Linked DNA regions of Homo sapiens: region 1 is linked to region 2. The links come from fine-mapping of genetic effects on gene expression. A gene starts in region 2. The other region holds a variant in brackets. All regions are shown on one strand. Distances are from middle to middle. Region 1 overlaps TRPM4 (transient receptor potential cation channel subfamily M member 4). Region 2 holds the start of TRPM4 (transient receptor potential cation channel subfamily M member 4).

Region 1 (8,319 bases), 41 kb after region 2:
TTATTTTTGAGACAGAGTCTCACTCTGTCGCCTAGGCTGCAGTGCATTGCAACCTCTGCCTCCCAGGTTCAAGCGATTCTCCCGCCTCAGCCTCCCGAGTATGTGGGACTACTGGCATGCGCCACCAGACCCGGCTAATTTTTGTATTTTTAGTAGAGACAGGGTTTCACCATGTTGGCCAGGCTGGTCTCGAACTCCCTACCTCAGGTGATCTGCCCGCCTTAACTCCCAAAGTGCTGCGATTACAGGCGTGAGCCACCGCGCCCGATCCGGGTATATTTTTAAAATATTTTTTGTAGAGATGAGGTTTTGCCATGTTGGCCAGGCTGGTCTCCAACTCCTCGGCTCAAGCGATCAATCCACCTCTTGACCGGAGATTTCAGAGGTCAGAGGTTAGATACAAGAGTCAAAACCCAAGAAATTAGCTCTGGGCAGACTGAGTTTCGGGTCAGGCAGGGTGAGATGTGCCAAGCCAAAAGTCTCGATGATGGTGGAGATCAGGACTCAGAGGTCAGAGTGAGGCCTCCTCCCTTCTCTTCTCTTCCCCCACAGGACGGCGGACCCAGCCGAGAAGACGCCGCTGGGGGTCCCGCGCCAGTCGGGCCGTCCGGGTTGCTGCGGGGGCCGCTGCGGGGGGCGCCGGTGCCTACGCCGCTGGTTCCACTTCTGGGGCGCGCCGGTGACCATCTTCATGGGCAACGTGGTCAGCTACCTGCTGTTCCTGCTGCTTTTCTCGCGGGTGCTGCTCGTGGATTTCCAGCCGGCGCCGCCCGGCTCCCTGGAGCTGCTGCTCTATTTCTGGGCTTTCACGCTGCTGTGCGAGGAACTGCGCCAGGGCCTGAGCGGAGGCGGGGGCAGCCTCGCCAGCGGGGGCCCCGGGCCTGGCCATGCCTCACTGAGCCAGCGCCTGCGCCTCTACCTCGCCGACAGCTGGAACCAGTGCGACCTAGTGGCTCTCACCTGCTTCCTCCTGGGCGTGGGCTGCCGGTGAGTGCCCCGGGGCCTTGGAACCCTGGCCCCTGGCCACCTCTCATCCTTCCTGCCCACTCCCGGGGTCTCCACTCCCGGCTTCCCCGCAGCTGGGCAGCAGGTCAAGCCAACCCTGCTGATTGAGAACCCCTCTTAGGAAAGTCGGGCATGACGATTGCCCCAGGGTAATTGGCTGGCACCTGGAGATCTGGCTTCAGGGACGGCAGGATTCAGGAGAAAACCCCACTGTCCGCCACTCAGCCTCTGCTGCTATTTATTGCTAGGCCTGAAGTTTAACAGATATTTATGGGAGCGCCCCGACCTGGGTGCCAACCTCACCTCCTCCCTTCTCTTCCTCCACATAGCTCGTTGGTCCCAGGCCCCTTGCCCTCCTGCCCCCGACTTTTTCTTTCTTTCCTTTTTTTTTCTTTCTTTCTTTCTCTTTCTTTCTTTTTCTTTCTTTCTTTCTTTCTTTCTTTCTTTCTTTCTTTCTTTCTTTCTTTCTTTCTCTCTCTTTCTTTTCTTTCTTTCTCTTTTCTTTTCCTTTCTTTTCTTTTTCTTTTTCTCTTTTCTTTCTCTCTCTCTCCCTCTGTCCTCTGCCCCTCTGCCTCCCTCCCTCCTTCCTTCCTTCCTTCCTTCCTTCCTTCCTTCCTTCCTTCTATGCTTCCTTCCATCCCTCCAAGCTAAGGGTTTAACCCTTGCCCTGCCTGCATTATGGAGTATCCTGCATTAGGATACTCCTCCTTTTGAGGAGAGCAAACAGAAAAGTTTGTGGATACAACCTGGTGACTGGTTTTTTGTTTGTTTGTTTGTTTTTGTTTTCTTTCTTTTCTTTTTTTTTTTTGAGCCAGAGTTCCGCTGTGTCGCCCAGACTGGAGTGCAGTGGTACGATCTTGGCTCACTGCAACCTCCACCTCCTGGGTTCAAGCGATTCTCTTGCCTCAGCCTCGTGAGTAGCTGGGATTACAGGCATGCACCACTACACCTAGCTAAATTTTTTTTGTATTTTTTTTGTAGAGATGGGGCTTTGCCATATTGACCAGGCTGGTCTTGAACTCTTGGCCTCAAGTGATCCACTGGCCTTAGCCTCTGAAAGTGCTGAGATTACAGATGTGGGTCACCGTGCCTGGCCAACAACCTGGTGACTGTTTACAAGGGACCTGACACATCCTGAATGGTTGACAGTGATGACAGTGATGATCCCTACTCAAGCTTTTCCCAGTAGACACGCTGAGAGGCAGGCTTCCTCTAAGCTATGTTAGCAGTGTTACAAAGTGATTCAACATAAATAATTTATTCAAGCAGGGAGCAAGATATGAGAGTTTTGCAGAACACTAATACTTCTGTTTGTAATTTGTTGTATTTTGTATAAAGTGACTTTTGAGATGAAAGGGCTAAGGCCATATGCTACCATGCTCTAGGATTGCCAGTGATATTTTGGACAGTTTATCAAGCCTACCACTTTCCAGGTGAAAAATGGAAAGATCTCAGCTTAAAAGGGAGAAACGGGCCTGGCGTGGTGGCTCATGCCTGTAATCCCAGCACTTTGGGAGGCCGAGGCGGGTGGATCACCTGAGATCAGGAGTTTGAGACCAGCCTGCCCAACATGGTGAAACCCCATCTCTACTAAAAATACAAAAAATTAGCCGGGCATGGTGGCAGGCGCCTGTAATCCCAGCTACTCGGGAGGCTGAGGCAGGATAATTGCCTGAACCTGGGAGGCGGAGGTTGCAGTGAGCCAAGATCATGCCACTGCACTCTAGCCTGGGTGAAAAGAGCAAAACTCTGTCAAAAAAAAAAAAAAAAAAAAAAGGGAGAAATGTCTAATCATCTCCGGAATTGAATGGATGAATCATCCTTTGTTTCGCCAGTTCCCTCTAGATGGACATTTAGGTTCTCTCTTTCTTTCTTTTTTTGTTTTAAATAGAGACAGGGTCTCACTCTGTTGCCCAGGCTGGTCTCAAACTCCAGGGCTCAAGCAATCCTCCCACCTTGGCCTCTCAAAGTGCTGGGATTACAGGCGTGAGCTACTATGCTCAGCCTTCTGTTTTTTTATTATTCCAAAATAATAAAAGTTTACATCCCAGATGTAAAGTTTATGGGTCAAAGGGTACATTTATTTTTGACATGGATAGATTTCCTTCTAAGTAGCTTCACTCATTTCCACACCTGCCATCAGGGTAAGAGAGTGCCCCCTTGAGGCCATGCTCGACAATGCCTGATACTTTCACTCTAAAATGTAGCTCTCAATTTAACTGAAAAAAAATTTGCCAATTTAATGGGTAAACATGACCTCTCCTTGTTATAATTTATGCACTCTTGACTACCAGATAGGTTGGACATCTTTTCCTAAGCTTAATGGCCATATGTCCTTGTGCCCCCTTGTTTTTTTTTTGGTTTTTGTTTTTGTTTTTGTTTTTGAGACGGAGTCTCGCTCTGTAGCCCAGGCTGGAGTGCAGTGGCGCGATCTCGGCTCACTGCAACCTCCGCCTCCCGGGTTCACGCCATTCTCCTGCCTCAGCCTACTGAGTAGCTGGGACTACAGGTGCCTGCCTCCACGCCCGGCTAATTTTTTGTATTTTGTAGTAGAGACGGGGTTTCACCGTGTTAGCCAAGATGTTCTCGATCTCCTGACCCCGTGATCCGCCCGCCTCGGCCTCCCAAAGTGCTAGGATTACAGGCGTGAGCCACTGCGACCGGCCACCCTCCCGTTTTTTTAATTGGGGTTCATTGATTTGTATATGTATAAATGTATATACTCCTTATACTCTGGATCCTAATCCTCGGTAGTTTTGTTGGTCTTAATATCTTCATATCTTCTCGAAGTCTGTGGCTTGTCTTTTCACTTTCACTTTTGTATGTTTCTTTTCTTTTCTTTTTTTTGAGCCTGCCTCGGCCTCCCAAAGTGCTGGGATTACAGGCGTGAGCCACCGCGTCTGTCCATACACTAGGTTTTTAATCCATCCAAAGTTTAAGTACATGAGGATGCAAAATAGGGGTAGAATTTTTATTTTCCCCATAGGAATTATTGATGTTTACTGGCCGTTTGAACGTCCTCTGTGAATTGTACGTGGTATCCTTTATCTGGCTTCCTTCCTTTTGCGTATTAGTTTGTAAGGACTCTATATGTTTTGCCTTTTATAGGTTGGACAGATATTCCGGCAGTTTTTCCAGCTTGATTCTTACAGGGACCAGCTCTTTGCTAAGGCCATCGTTCATTCAGTCATTACTTAATAGGCGCAGCCATTTTAAAAATGGGTGCCAGGGCCCTGCATGGACCAGCTTGGTACTGAATAAATTTGAGTAAACCCCGGGTGACTGGGAGGGTCCTGGTCCTGCCCGGTGGAGGCTGCAGCTTCCTCTGAAGGATGGCATTGGGAAGACTTCCATTTTCCTTGGCGTCTTGTGACACTTGACCCTTGTGGCATCTCCCCACACCCCAGGCTGACCCCGGGTTTGTACCACCTGGGCCGCACTGTCCTCTGCATCGACTTCATGGTTTTCACGGTGCGGCTGCTTCACATCTTCACGGTCAACAAACAGCTGGGGCCCAAGATCGTCATCGTGAGCAAGATGGTGAGGCAGGGGCGGGGCCAAAGTGGGCGGGGACATAGGGAAAGGGGTGGGGCCAGGGAGGGAGTGGTCCGTGG[A/G]GAAGGGGCGTGACTTTGGGGAGCAATGGGGCGTGTTTTTGGGATATAGGGGTGGGGCCAGAGTAGGAAAGGGCGGGGCCAGACTCAGCCACATCTCCCCACAGATGAAGGACGTGTTCTTCTTCCTCTTCTTCCTCGGCGTGTGGCTGGTAGCCTATGGCGTGGCCACGGAGGGGCTCCTGAGGCCACGGGACAGTGACTTCCCAAGTATCCTGCGCCGCGTCTTCTACCGTCCCTACCTGCAGATCTTCGGGCAGATTCCCCAGGAGGACATGGACGGTAGGGGGGATGACGGCCTGACAGCCTTCCTCTGAGTCTCTGTCCCCGCTCCCTGGGTCTCTGTCCTCCTGGCTCTAAGAAAATATCTGTCTCTCTGAGTCTCTGTCTCCCTCTTTCTCTGGATCTCTGAGTGATACCCTATATTCCCCATCATCATCTCTCTGGGTCTCTGCCTACCCCACCCCCTCTGTCTTTCTGTCTGTCTTTCTTTTTTCTTTTTTTTTTTCTTTTTTTTTGAGATGGATGTTAGAAATGTTTATTTTGTGGTGTCGTAAAGAAATAGTACTTGAACATAAATTTAATTTTTTTAGTAAAGCCATTTTTATTTTTTGTAGAAAGGGTACACTCGCCAGCAGTTTTGTCATGAGAGTACACGGAACAAAGGAGATAGGGTCATTTATAACCTGACGCGTCTATTTTACTGCTGTGTCTGGTTTTTATTGGCTGGAACCGGACTTTACATTTTGTATTTGTCTTGATTGGCTAGTAACTTAGAAGTTTTTAAAAGAAGCGAAGGCAGAGGAGAACAAAGGAAGGAGGAAGTAACTTGTGGAATGTTGAGAAAGGTAAAAACACTTTTAAATAAGGAAGAGGAACAGGCTATGATCTAATGCTTGCTTGAACCAGTATAAGTATGTCAGGGCAAATATTTAGGCTAAATTGTGAGAGCTAAGAACATAAAGTACATTGATTTATTTTTTATGGCTAGTAGATATTTAAGAATGTTAGCACAGGTGTTTGAATAAATTTTGTTTCTAAGAGAAGTTACTATTTATTGTTAATTAGATGGGGAGGAAAGTCTTTGAAGAGGAACCTGTACTTTACTTTTTACATGGAGTTTTGCTCTTGTTGCCCAGGCTGGAGTGCAATGGCACGATCTCAGCTCACTGCAACCTCCACCTCCCAGATCGAAGCGATTCTCCTATCTCAGCCTCCCGAGTAGCTGGGACTACAGGCGCGTGCCACCACGCCTGGCTAACAGTTTTGTGTTTTTAGTAGAGATGGGGTTTCATCACATTGGTCAGGCTAGTCTCAAACTCCCCACCTCAGGTGATCCGGCCATCTCAGCCTCCCAAAAGTGCTGGGATTACAGGCGTGAGCCACCGCGCCCGGCAGTCTTCCTGTCTTTCTTAGGTCTCTGTCCCCCTCACCCCATCTCTGAATGTCTCTCTTCACAGTGGCCCTCATGGAGCACAGCAACTGCTCGTCGGAGCCCGGCTTCTGGGCACACCCTCCTGGGGCCCAGGCGGGCACCTGCGTCTCCCAGTATGCCAACTGGCTGGTGGTGCTGCTCCTCGTCATCTTCCTGCTCGTGGCCAACATCCTGCTGGTCAACTTGCTCATTGCCATGTTCAGGTGAGGCCTGACTGCTCTCTGATCTGACCCCACCCAGCATGACCCGTGGCCCTCTCATGACTCTTGAACCCCGTCTAATGAATTCTGTTTTTAGTCCCTGAACTCTGATCCAATCTAATGCTGCCTTCTCCCCAAACCCAACCAGACCCTGCTTGTAATTTGGACTTTGGACTGATCCTCTCCCTGAGCCCAGGTTGAACTTCCTTATTTGTATTTTTTTGAGACAGGGTCTCACTCTGTCGCCAAGGCTAGAGTGTGGTGATGTGATCGTAGCTTACTGCAGCCTCGACCTCCTGGACTCAAGCAATCCTCCTGCCTTCGCCCCATAAGTAGCTGGGACTACTTAAAATTAGCCAGGCCAGCAGGCCTGCCTAATTTAAAAAAATTTTTGGAGAGAGGGGTCTCACTATGTTGTCCATGCTAGTCTCGAGCTCCTGGACTCAAGTGATCCTCCCTCCTCAGCCTCCCAAAGTGCTGGGATAATCTGTCACCTAGGCTGGAGTGTAGTGGCAAGTTCTCAGCTCACTGCAACCTCCACTTCCCACTCCCCCATACCCAGTTAATTTTTTGTATTTGTAGTAGAGATAGGGTTTCACCATGTTGGCCTTGAACTCTTGACCTCAAGTGATTGGCCCACCTCAGCCTCCCAAAGTGTTGGGATTACAGGTGTGAGCCATCGCGCCCAGCCAACTTTGTTTTTTATTGTGGTAAAATTATATAAAATTTTCCATTTTTACTTCTTTTTTTTTTTTTTTTTTTTTGACGGAGTCTCGCTGTGTCACCCAGGCTAGAGTGCAGTGGCACGATCTCACAATCTCAGCTCACTACAAGCTCCGCCACCCGGGTTCACGCCATTCTCCTACCTCAGCCTCCTGAGTAGCTGGGACTACAGGTGCCCGCCACCACGCCCAGCTAATTTTTTTGTATTTTTAGTAGAGACGGAGTTTCACCGTGTTAACCCGGATGGTCTCAATCTCCTGACCTCGTGATCCACCCGCCTTGGCCTCCCAAAGTGCTAGGATTACAGGCGTGAGCCACCGCGCCCCGCCTTTTTTTGAGATGGAGTCTCGCTCTGTCGCCCAGGCTGGAGTGCAATGGTGCAATCTCAGCTTACTGCAACCTCCACCTCCCAGGTTCAAGCGATTCTCCTGCCTCAGCCTCCCAAGTAGCTAGGACTACAGGCGTGCGCCACCACACCTGGCTAATTTTTTGTATTTTTAGTAGAGATGGGGTTTCACCGTGTTAGCCAGGATGGTTTCGATCTCCTGACCTTGTGATCCGCCCGCCTTGGCCTCCCAGAGTGCTGGGATTACTGACATGAGCCACCGCGGCCGGAGTTGATTTTTACCATTTTTAAGTGTACAAGTCAGTGACATTAATTACATTTACAGTACTCTCCAACCATCACCACTATCTATTTTCAATACGTTCTATCACCCAGAACAGAAAGTGTGTCCCCATGAAACAGCAACTCCCCACTTCCCCTCCCCACAGGTCTTAGTAACCTCCAGTGTATTTTCTGTCTCTATGGATTTAGTCTAGATGTTTCATGTAAGTGGAATTATGCGATATTTGTCTTTTGGTGTCTGGCTGATTTTACTGAGCATGTTTTCAAGGCTCATCCCTGTTGTAGTGTGCATCAGAACTTCATTCATTCCGTTTTATGAATGAGTAATATTCTATTGTACAAATAGACCACATTTGGGCCCAGCGTGGTGGCTCATGCCTGTAATCCCAGCACTTTGGGAGGCCTAGGCGGGTGGATCACCTGAGGTCAGGAGTTCGAGACCAGCCTGGCCAACGTGGCAGGACCCCCTTTTTACTAAAAATACAAAAATTAGCTGGGCTCATGTCTGTAATTCCAGCTACTTGGGAGGCTCAGGCACGAGAGTCGCTTGAACCCAGGAGGCGGAGGCTACAGTGAGCCAAGATCGTGCCACTGCACTCCAGCCTGGGCAACAGAGCGAGACTCCATCTCAAAAAAAGAAGACCACATTTGATTTACCCGCTCATCTGTTGATGAACACTTGGGTTCTTTCTGCCTTTTGGCTATTGTGACTAATGT
Region 2 (8,296 bases):
TGGCCTCGGTGTCCATGCCTGAGGATATGATGGTGATGCTCACTGGACACAACTTCATCCTCATCCTCGTCTTGATGGCTGTGGCTCCTGTGGCTGGGGAGGTGGTGCCTGTGCTCAGCTGAGTCTTCCGTGTCTTCACTCCCGTGGCCTCTGTGCCCACGGGCCTGCCCACCATGCTCTGCAAAGACCTCCTCACCTGAGACACCCTCATCTCCGACTTTGTGGTCTTGGGACCTGTGGCCTGGGAGTAGGTGCCCATATTCCTTGGAGACATCTTCATCCTCCTTTTCACGGTCTGGGTGGCTCCAGAAATGATGCCCATTCTCTGTGGAAACATCCTTGTTCTCATCTGGATGGTCTCTAGGGCTGTGGAGGTGGTGGCGAAGCTCTGCTGATGCCTCCTCGGAGAGCCCGGCGACTCCAGTGCTGTTGTTCCGGTTTCTGAAGCCTAGCCCATCCCCTCTGAGCTGCTGGGTCATGGCCGGGGGGAGGAGCAGGCTGGCCACCCCAGCCCAGAGGACAGAAGCGTGCAGCCATGGCCTATGGTGGCCCATGGGGACGGACAGGCAGCACTGGCTCCAGCTGCCTCTGCGGCAATGTGGACAAACGTTGGGGTCTTTGTCCCTTTGGGGTTGGTCTCTTTTTTTCTCTGTGTCTCTCCTTTGTCCTTTCGGTCTCTGTCCACCTTCCTCTGGTCCTTGCTGCCTGGCTCTGGACACCCCTCTGAGGCTGTCTCCGGAGCCCCCTGACCCCCCTCTGGGGCCCTCCCTCCCCATTCCCCAGCCAATAGGGTCCTTCCCCTCCCCTCTCTCCAGCTAAATTTACTCTCAGCCCTGAGTTATTCTGGGTCAGTCCCCGCCTGCCTGCCTCCTGCTCCTCCTCCTCCCAGCTGGGGAGGGGACCAGTGAGGGGTCTCTCCCTGGCCAGGAGACGGTGGCCAAGGGACTTGACTTTGAACTACCAACAAGCTCACGTTTGGCAGCTGCAAAGACAAAGGCTAGACTTTTAGCAGGTTTTTGGGGGAGCCTGGGGCACCTGGGGGAGGCAGAAGAGACTTATCAGAGGGGAGAGACTCCTGGGACGGAAGGACTGGGGGTTCGATTGCGGGGTGTTTCCAGCTGGAATGATACGTGCTGGTGAGAGAGTGATGTCAGTATTGAGGCCCTAGAATGGGGGGAAAGGAACATGGCCCCCAACACACGTGCCCATGACCTCCTGTCCCTGGAACTCAGATCTGGGGGCAGGGACTGGGCTAGGCCAGGGCTATAAATACAGCTGGGAGGGGTAGGGGGACTCAGGTTACGGAGGCCACAGCTGTCCCCATCACAGAGGGCTGGCAGGAGACAAGTGGCCTTGCCCGTCTCTGTGTGTCAGTATTTCCTACTCCTCACCCTTCATGACTGCCCCCACTAGGGTCTCCTTTCCTGTTCACGGGTCCTCCTCTCTCTTCAATTCTGTCATCTGCTCTCTCAGGGTCCCTGTCCCTCCTCCATGGGATTGCCTCTCCCTCTCACTCTGGGCTTCTGTCCCACTCTTATCTTAGTGTCAGTCCTCCCCCAAGTCTGTGTCCCTCTCTCTCCCCTAAATCTCTGGCCCCTCCTTTCTGAGTTCCTGCCCTTCCCCCAATTCTTTGGTTTTTGCATCCCCCTCTGCCCCTTGCCTCAGTCAAGGTGTCTCCTCCCCATCTCTGGCATCCACCTCTCTGGGTCTCTGTCCCCACTCTCTCTCAGAGTCTCTGTCCCCCTCTGTCTCAGAGTCTCTGTCCACCTCTCCCTGGGTCTCTGTCCCCCTCTCTCTGGGTCTCTGTCCCCCTCTCCCTGGGTCTCTGTCCCCCTCTCTCTGTGGATCTCTGTCCCCCTCTCTCTGGGTCTCTGTTCCCCTCTCTCTGTGGGTCTCTGTCCCCCTCTCTCTGTGGATCTCTGTCCCCCTCTCTCTGGGTCTCTGTTCCCCTCTCTCTGTGGGTCTCTGTCCCCCTCTCTCTCTGGGTCTCTGTTCCCCTCTCTCTGGGTCTCTGTCCCCCTCTCTCAGGGTCTCTGTCCCCCTCTGTCTCAGAGTCTCTGTCCCCCTCTCTCTGGGTCTCTGTCCCCTCTCCCTGGGTCTCTGTACCCCTCTCCGTGGGTCTCTGTCCCCTCTCCCTGGGTCTCTGTCCCCCCATCCCTGGGTCTCTGTCCCCCCCTCTCTGGGTCTCTGTCCCCCTCTCTCTGGGTCTCTGTCCTCCTCTCTCTCTGGGTCTCTGTTCCCCTCTCTCTGGGTCTCTGTCCCCCTCTCTCTGGGTCTCTGTCCCCGTCTCTCTGGGTCTCTGTCCCCCTCTCTCTGGGTCTCTGTCCTCCTCTCTCTCTGGGTCTCTGTTCCCCTCTCTCTGGGTCTCTGTCCCCCTCTCTCTGGGTCTCTGTCCCCGTCTCTCTGGGTCTCTGTCCCCCTCTCTCTGGGTCTCTGTCCCCCTCTCTCTGGGTCTCTGTCCCCTCTCCCTGGGTCTCTGTCCCCCTCTCCGTGGGTCTCTGTCCCCTCTCCCTGGGTCTCTGTCCCCCCCTCCCTGGGTCTCTGTCCCCCCCTCTCTGGGTCTCTGTCCCCCCCTCTCTGGGTCTCTGTCCTCCTCTCCCTGGGTCTCTGTCCCCCTCTCTCTGTGGGTCTCTGTCCCACTCTCTCTGGGTCTCTGTCCCACTCTCTCTGGGTCTCTGTCCCCTCTCCCTGGGTCTCTGTCCCCCTCTCTCTGTGGGTCTCTGTCCCCCTCTCTCTCTGTCTATCCCTGGGTCCCTGCTGCCCCACCTTCTGATTCTCTGTCCCCTAAGTCTTTGTCTCCCCCTCTTTGGGTTAAATTGTCCCCTCCCTGTCTGGCATCCTCCTTTCTGAGTCTGTTCCCTCTCCGCCACTGGCCCCCAACTCCTTCTGTTCCCATCTCGCGCTTGCCCTTGGAGTCTCCCCTGTGTGTCTCTCTCCCCCCGGCCCGGACCTCTGCACCCCCCAGGTCGCTGTCCCTCTGTCCCCTTATCGCGGCCTGGGACCCGCCCTCTCCCCGCCTCCCGCTTTGGCGTCTCCAAGACTCCCCGCCCCCCAGACCTCGCCCCGCCCCAGGCTAGGCTGGAAAGTGGAGGATCCGGTTTGCTCTGGGCGGGTCTGGAAGCAGAGCCGGCGGAGGGAGCGCCGGGGCCCTGGGCTGCAGGAGGTTGCGGCGGCCGCGGCAGCATGGTGGTGCCGGAGAAGGAGCAGGTGAGCGCCGGACCAGGGTCTGCGGGAGCGCGGAGCTGGGGACCTCGCCTCCAGGCTCCCAGAGAGGAGGGCGCTGGACACCCAGATTCCTGGGTCAGACGGAGGAGGGGGATGGGAGGGTCCAGGTTCCAGGGTCCAGGGCATGGGGGTCGAGACTCCTGAGTCTGGAGCGGGAGGGCGCTGGGGGCCCGGACTCCTGTGTCCGTGGGGAGCGCACGGGGTGGGTGGCTCTGTGTCCCATAGGACAGAACTGGGTGCCCTCTCACCCCACTTCCACCCCTACATTTGTTCCTGTCCCCAGAGCTGGATCCCCAAGATCTTCAAGAAGAAGACCTGCACGACGTTCATAGTTGACTCCACAGATCCGGGGTGAGGAGTTCGCCCCTGGACTGACCCCAGAGGGTCCGCGGCCCGCTGACCCCGCCCGCGGATGGTCACGCCCCAGCCCTGCTCCTTCCCCATTCCTGGACTCGGGGACCTTCCCAAGGGCGTTCCTTGCCGACGCTCTCCCTCTAGGAGCGTTTGGGTCTGTGTAGACACCCCTCATTCCCCATTCGCCATTCTCCCGCTCAGGGTCAGTGTAGACGCTCCAGGGCTCGGTTCTGCTTCTTTCCTCCCCGATGTCTCTTCTATGTGCTTCTGTCTCTTCGTGTCACTTTCTGTGTCTCTGTCTTTCCCTTTTGGGTATTTCTGTTTCATTCATTCATTCATTCATTCATTCATTCATTCATCCATCCATGCAAGAAACCCTCACTCAGCGCTCCCAAGGTCCCTTTAGCCTAATTCAACGGCCCTGCCAGGGTTCCAATTTCCCCTGGGACACGTGCTGTGTGGCTTCGGGCAAATCATTTCACCTCTCTGGGTCCCGTTTCTCATCTGGGCATCAAAAGAGGCTTGATCTCCTGGGGTTATTATGAGAATTAAACAAGTTAATGCTTGTGATATTCCTGGCACAGCGCCCAGCACAGGACGCTGGGAAATATCTGCAGCTCCCACTGGGAGGTGGCAATTATTACCGCGGGCGGGCCCTGTCTTGGTGGCCGGGGACACCAATTGAGCTAGATAGGGTGTGTGCGTCCGCGAGGAGCTCCCGCCCTTCAGTGACGGCCTCTCAAGCGGATCCAGGCTTTCTAGTTTTTTTTTTTTTTTTTTTTTTTTTGAGACGGTGTCTCGCTCTGTCCCCCAGGCTGGAGTGCAGTGGCGCGATCTCGGCTCACTGCAAGCTCCGCCTCCCGGGTTCACGCCGTTTTCCTGCCTCAGCCTCCCGAGTAGCTGGGACTACAGGCGCCCGCCACCACGCCCGGCTAATTTTTTGTATTTTAGTAGAGACGGGGTTTCACCGTGTTGGCCAGGATGATCTCGATCTCCTGACCTTGTGATCCGCCCGCCTCAGCCCCTCAAAGTACTGGGATTACAGGCGTGAGCCATCGCGCTGGGCCAATTTTTTGTATTTTTTTTTTAGTAGAGACGGGGTTGCACCGTGTTAGCCAGATGGTCTCGATCTCCTGACCTCATGATCCGCCGGCCTCGGCCTCCCAAAGCGCTAGGATTACAGGTGTGAGCCACCGCACCTGGCCCAGGCTTTCTAGTTTTTTGTTTTTTGTTTTTTTGAGACAGAGTCTGGCTCTGTCGCCCAGGCTGGAGTGCAGTGTTGCGATATCAGCTCACTGCAACATCCACCTCCTGGGTTCAAGCAGTTCTCATGCCTCAGCCTCCCTAGTAGCTGGGATTACAGGTGCCTACCACCATGCCCAGCTAATTTTTTGTATTTTAGTAGAGACGGGATTTCACCCTGTTGCCCAGGTTGGTCTTGAACTCTTGATCTCAGGCAATGCACCTGCCTTGGCTTTCCAAAGTACTGGGATTACAGGTGTGAGCCACCGCGCCCAGCCCTCTAGTTGTTTTTCAAGACAGTTTTTGGGGTGCGGGAAGTATCCACATTCCTACTTCAGTGTGTATTTTGTTATGACTATATATTAGTGCAGTATGGCTTGTAAATGATGGATAAATAAACAGATATGCGCTTGTTGGACGTGAGTGCTCAAAACCTTTTTACTGATAGGTCAGTGTGGTCAAGACAATTTAGGAAACTCTGGTCTGGCCTGAGGAGGAAGAAACGCAGAAGATAATTATAGTAAGGCAAGGGGTTGCAGCTCCCAAAGACGAGCCACTGGGCTCTGTGAGAGCTGGGAGGAGGTGTTTGCTTAAGACTGGGAGGGGACACAAAATGTCACTAATGGTTTCTGGAGGGAGGAAGAGTGGCTAGTGAGGTGACATTTGAAAGTGAGCTGGAGAGAGGCCCATGGAAAGCGATTTGGGGCCGGGCATTGTGGCTCACGCCTGTCATCCCAACAATCTGGGAGGCCGAGGCGGGTGGATCACCTAAGTCAGGAGTTCGAGACCAGCTTGGCTAACATGGTGCAACCCTATCTCTACTAAAAATACAAAAATTAACTGGGCGTATTGGCGCATGCCTGTAATCCCAGCTACTCAGGAGGCAGGAGAATCACTTAAACCTGGGAGACGGAGGCTACTATGAGCAGAGATCACGTCACTGCACTCCAGCCTGGGTGACAGAGCAAGACTCCATCTCAAAAAAAAAAAAAAAAAGAAAGAAAGAAAGAAAAAAGTGATTTGAACAGCATGTGCAAAGTCCTTGCTAAGGACCATATGGTTTGGCTTGAATATGAATCAAAGTTCAGGGTGCAGGGAGCACTGTCATGAGAGAAGAGGCTGCAGAGGAGGGCAGGGCCAGAGCTTGCAGGGTGTCAGAGGCCACCCTAAGGGGCTGGGATCTTGTCCTTGGGAGCTGGGGCATCACCGCAGCAGTGGGGTTGGCTCTGGGTGTGGAAAAACTTTCTGGGGCTGGGAGAGGATGAACAGGAGCTCGGGAGGAGGCTGTAGAGAGCGTCTGAGCGGGAGGGGTAGTGGCCTGAGCCAGGTCAGGGCTTTCGGGACACAGAGAGGAGGGCATGGGGCAAAGACTCAGGGGGCAGGAAGGCAGAGCTTGGGGCTTGATGAGGGTGATGAGGGAGAGAGGGGGTGCCGCCATCGGTGGATGGCTCCGGGACGTATGCTCTGCTGACTGGGACACAGTGGGGCTGTCCCTGAGATGGAGAGCTCAGGAGGGCAAGCAGGTTTGGGAAATGTCGCTGAGTGCAATGTGGGAATCTGTGCATATGAGCGGCCTAGGGGGACCGAGGGGCATGTGGGGACTGAGATTGGGAAAGGTCTGGACTAATGTCCAGAATCTGAGAGGTCCGAGTTGTAGCTGGTAATTGAAACTGGAAGTAGGTAAGACGTCACAGGGAAAACAACGTGTAAAGTCAGGGGAGTTGCAAACTGGCAATTCTATAGCCAATTGTGTGCGTGTGTTTGTGTGTGTGTGTGTTTAGAAGAGCATTTAAAAATATCTGTCTTCTGTCTCTCTCTCTTTTTTTTTTTTTTTTTTTTTTGAGACAGGGTCTTGCTCTGTTGTCCAGGCTGGAGTGGCACGATCATGGTTCACTGCAGCCTTGACCTGCTGGGCTCAAGCGATCCTCCCACATGAGCCTCCGGAGTAGCTGGGACCACAGGCATGCACCACCATGCCTGGCTAATTTTAAAATTTTTTGTAGAAACCGGGTCTCCCTTTGATACCAGACCAGGCTGGTATCCAACTCCTGGACTCAAGTGAGCCTCCCACCTCACTCTGCCTGCCAAAGTGCTGGAATTACAGGCGAGAGCCACCATACCCGGCTACCTCTTTTTTTTTTTTGAGACGGAGTCTCGCTCTATCACCCAGGCTGGAGTGCAGTAGTGCGATCTCGGCTCACTTCAACCTCTGCCTCCTGGGTTCAAGCGATTCTCCTGCCTCAGCCCCCCGAGTAGCTGGGATTACAGGCACCCACCATCACGCCTGGCTAATTTTTGTACTTTTAGTAGAGACAAGGTTTCACCATGTTGGCCAGGCTGATCTCGAACTCCTGACCTCAAGTGATCTGCCCACCTGGGCCTCCCAACGTGCTGGGATTACAGGTGTGAGCCACTGCTCCTGGCCCTGGCTACTTCTTTCTGTTGAGTTACTTGACTGGCCTCTGCACACATTGGGTTTGAGAATCATGTAGGGAAGGCTTGCACTGGGAACACCTACACTCAAGGGAGGTGAAAAGCAAGAGAAAGCCACAAACAAGTCAGGCATGAAGCAGCCGGGGCGGGGAGGAAGGCCAGAGGGGCAGGGGTATCCTGCCAAGGAGAGGGTTTCCAGAATGAGAGCCTTTCAGCTGTAGCCAGGGCCACTTGTGATACAGTCAGATGAAACCTGAATAAGGGCCGTTGTATATGGAGCCAGGCAGGAAATTGATGATTTTTATCAAGAACAATTTCAGGCCAGGCACAGTGACTCACAGCTGTAATCCCAGCAGTTTGAGAGGCCGAGGTGGGCTGATCACTTGAGGTCAGGAGTTTGAGACCAGCCTGGCCAATGTGGTAAAACCCCATCTCTACTAAAAATACAAAAACTAGCCAGGTACTGTGGCACATGCCTGTAATCCCAGCTACTCAGGATGCTGAGGCACGAGAGTCGCTTGAGCCCAGGTGGCAGAGGTTGCAGTGAGCTGAGATCGTACCACTGCATTCTAGCCTGGGAGACAGAGCGAGACTCCATCTCAAAACAAAACAAAACAAACAAACAAACAAAAAAACAATTTATTTCAGTTTCTGTGGCTCCACCGAGGAAAGAGTGTAGGAGGCAAGCTGTGCAGAAGGAATGGCTCCTAGCACTGAATGTCAGAATTTTCCACGATTTTGGAAACGTTCTATGTCTACATCCAATATGGCAGTCCTGGCCACAGGGGGCTACTGGGCACTTGGAATATGGCCATTGTACCTGAGAAACTGAATTTTTTTTTGAGGTGGAGTCTCGCTCTGTCGCCCAGGCTGGAGTGCAGTGGTGCAATCTTGGCTCACTGCAACCTCCGCCTCCCGGGTTCATGCCATTCTCCTGCCTCAGCCTCCCGAGTAGCTGGGACTACAGGCACCCGCCACCATGCCAAGCTGATTTTTGTATTTTTAGTAGAAACAGGGTTTCACCATGTTGGCCAGGCTGGTC

What was found. PIP is the estimated chance that this variant, and not a neighbour inherited with it, causes the effect.
Region 1: its variant is fine-mapped to the expression of TRPM4 in whole blood (TOPMed, PIP above 0.99).

The regions. Positions count from the first base shown.
Region 1 is chr19:49,195,888-49,204,206 of GRCh38, forward strand. TRPM4 (transient receptor potential cation channel subfamily M member 4) reads left to right here. Exons shown (of 25, transcript NM_017636.4): 17 at 553-987; 18 at 4,413-4,545; 19 at 4,724-4,898; 20 at 6,077-6,254. Among named protein-coding and RNA genes, the nearest start is that of TRPM4, 42 kb to the left of the region's middle. RefSeq lists a silencer at 872-1,198. The variant A/G (reference allele first, on the strand shown) is at 4,620.
Region 2 is chr19:49,154,684-49,162,979 of GRCh38, forward strand. It overlaps TRPM4 (transient receptor potential cation channel subfamily M member 4), which reads left to right and starts at 3,109. Exons shown (of 25, transcript NM_017636.4): 1 at 3,109-3,207; 2 at 3,509-3,576. The coding sequence starts at 3,184. It overlaps HRC (histidine rich calcium binding protein), which reads right to left and starts at 713. Exons shown (of 6, transcript NM_002152.3): 1 at 1-713. The coding sequence starts at 554. RefSeq lists an enhancer at 2,843-3,464 and a silencer at 4,148-4,334.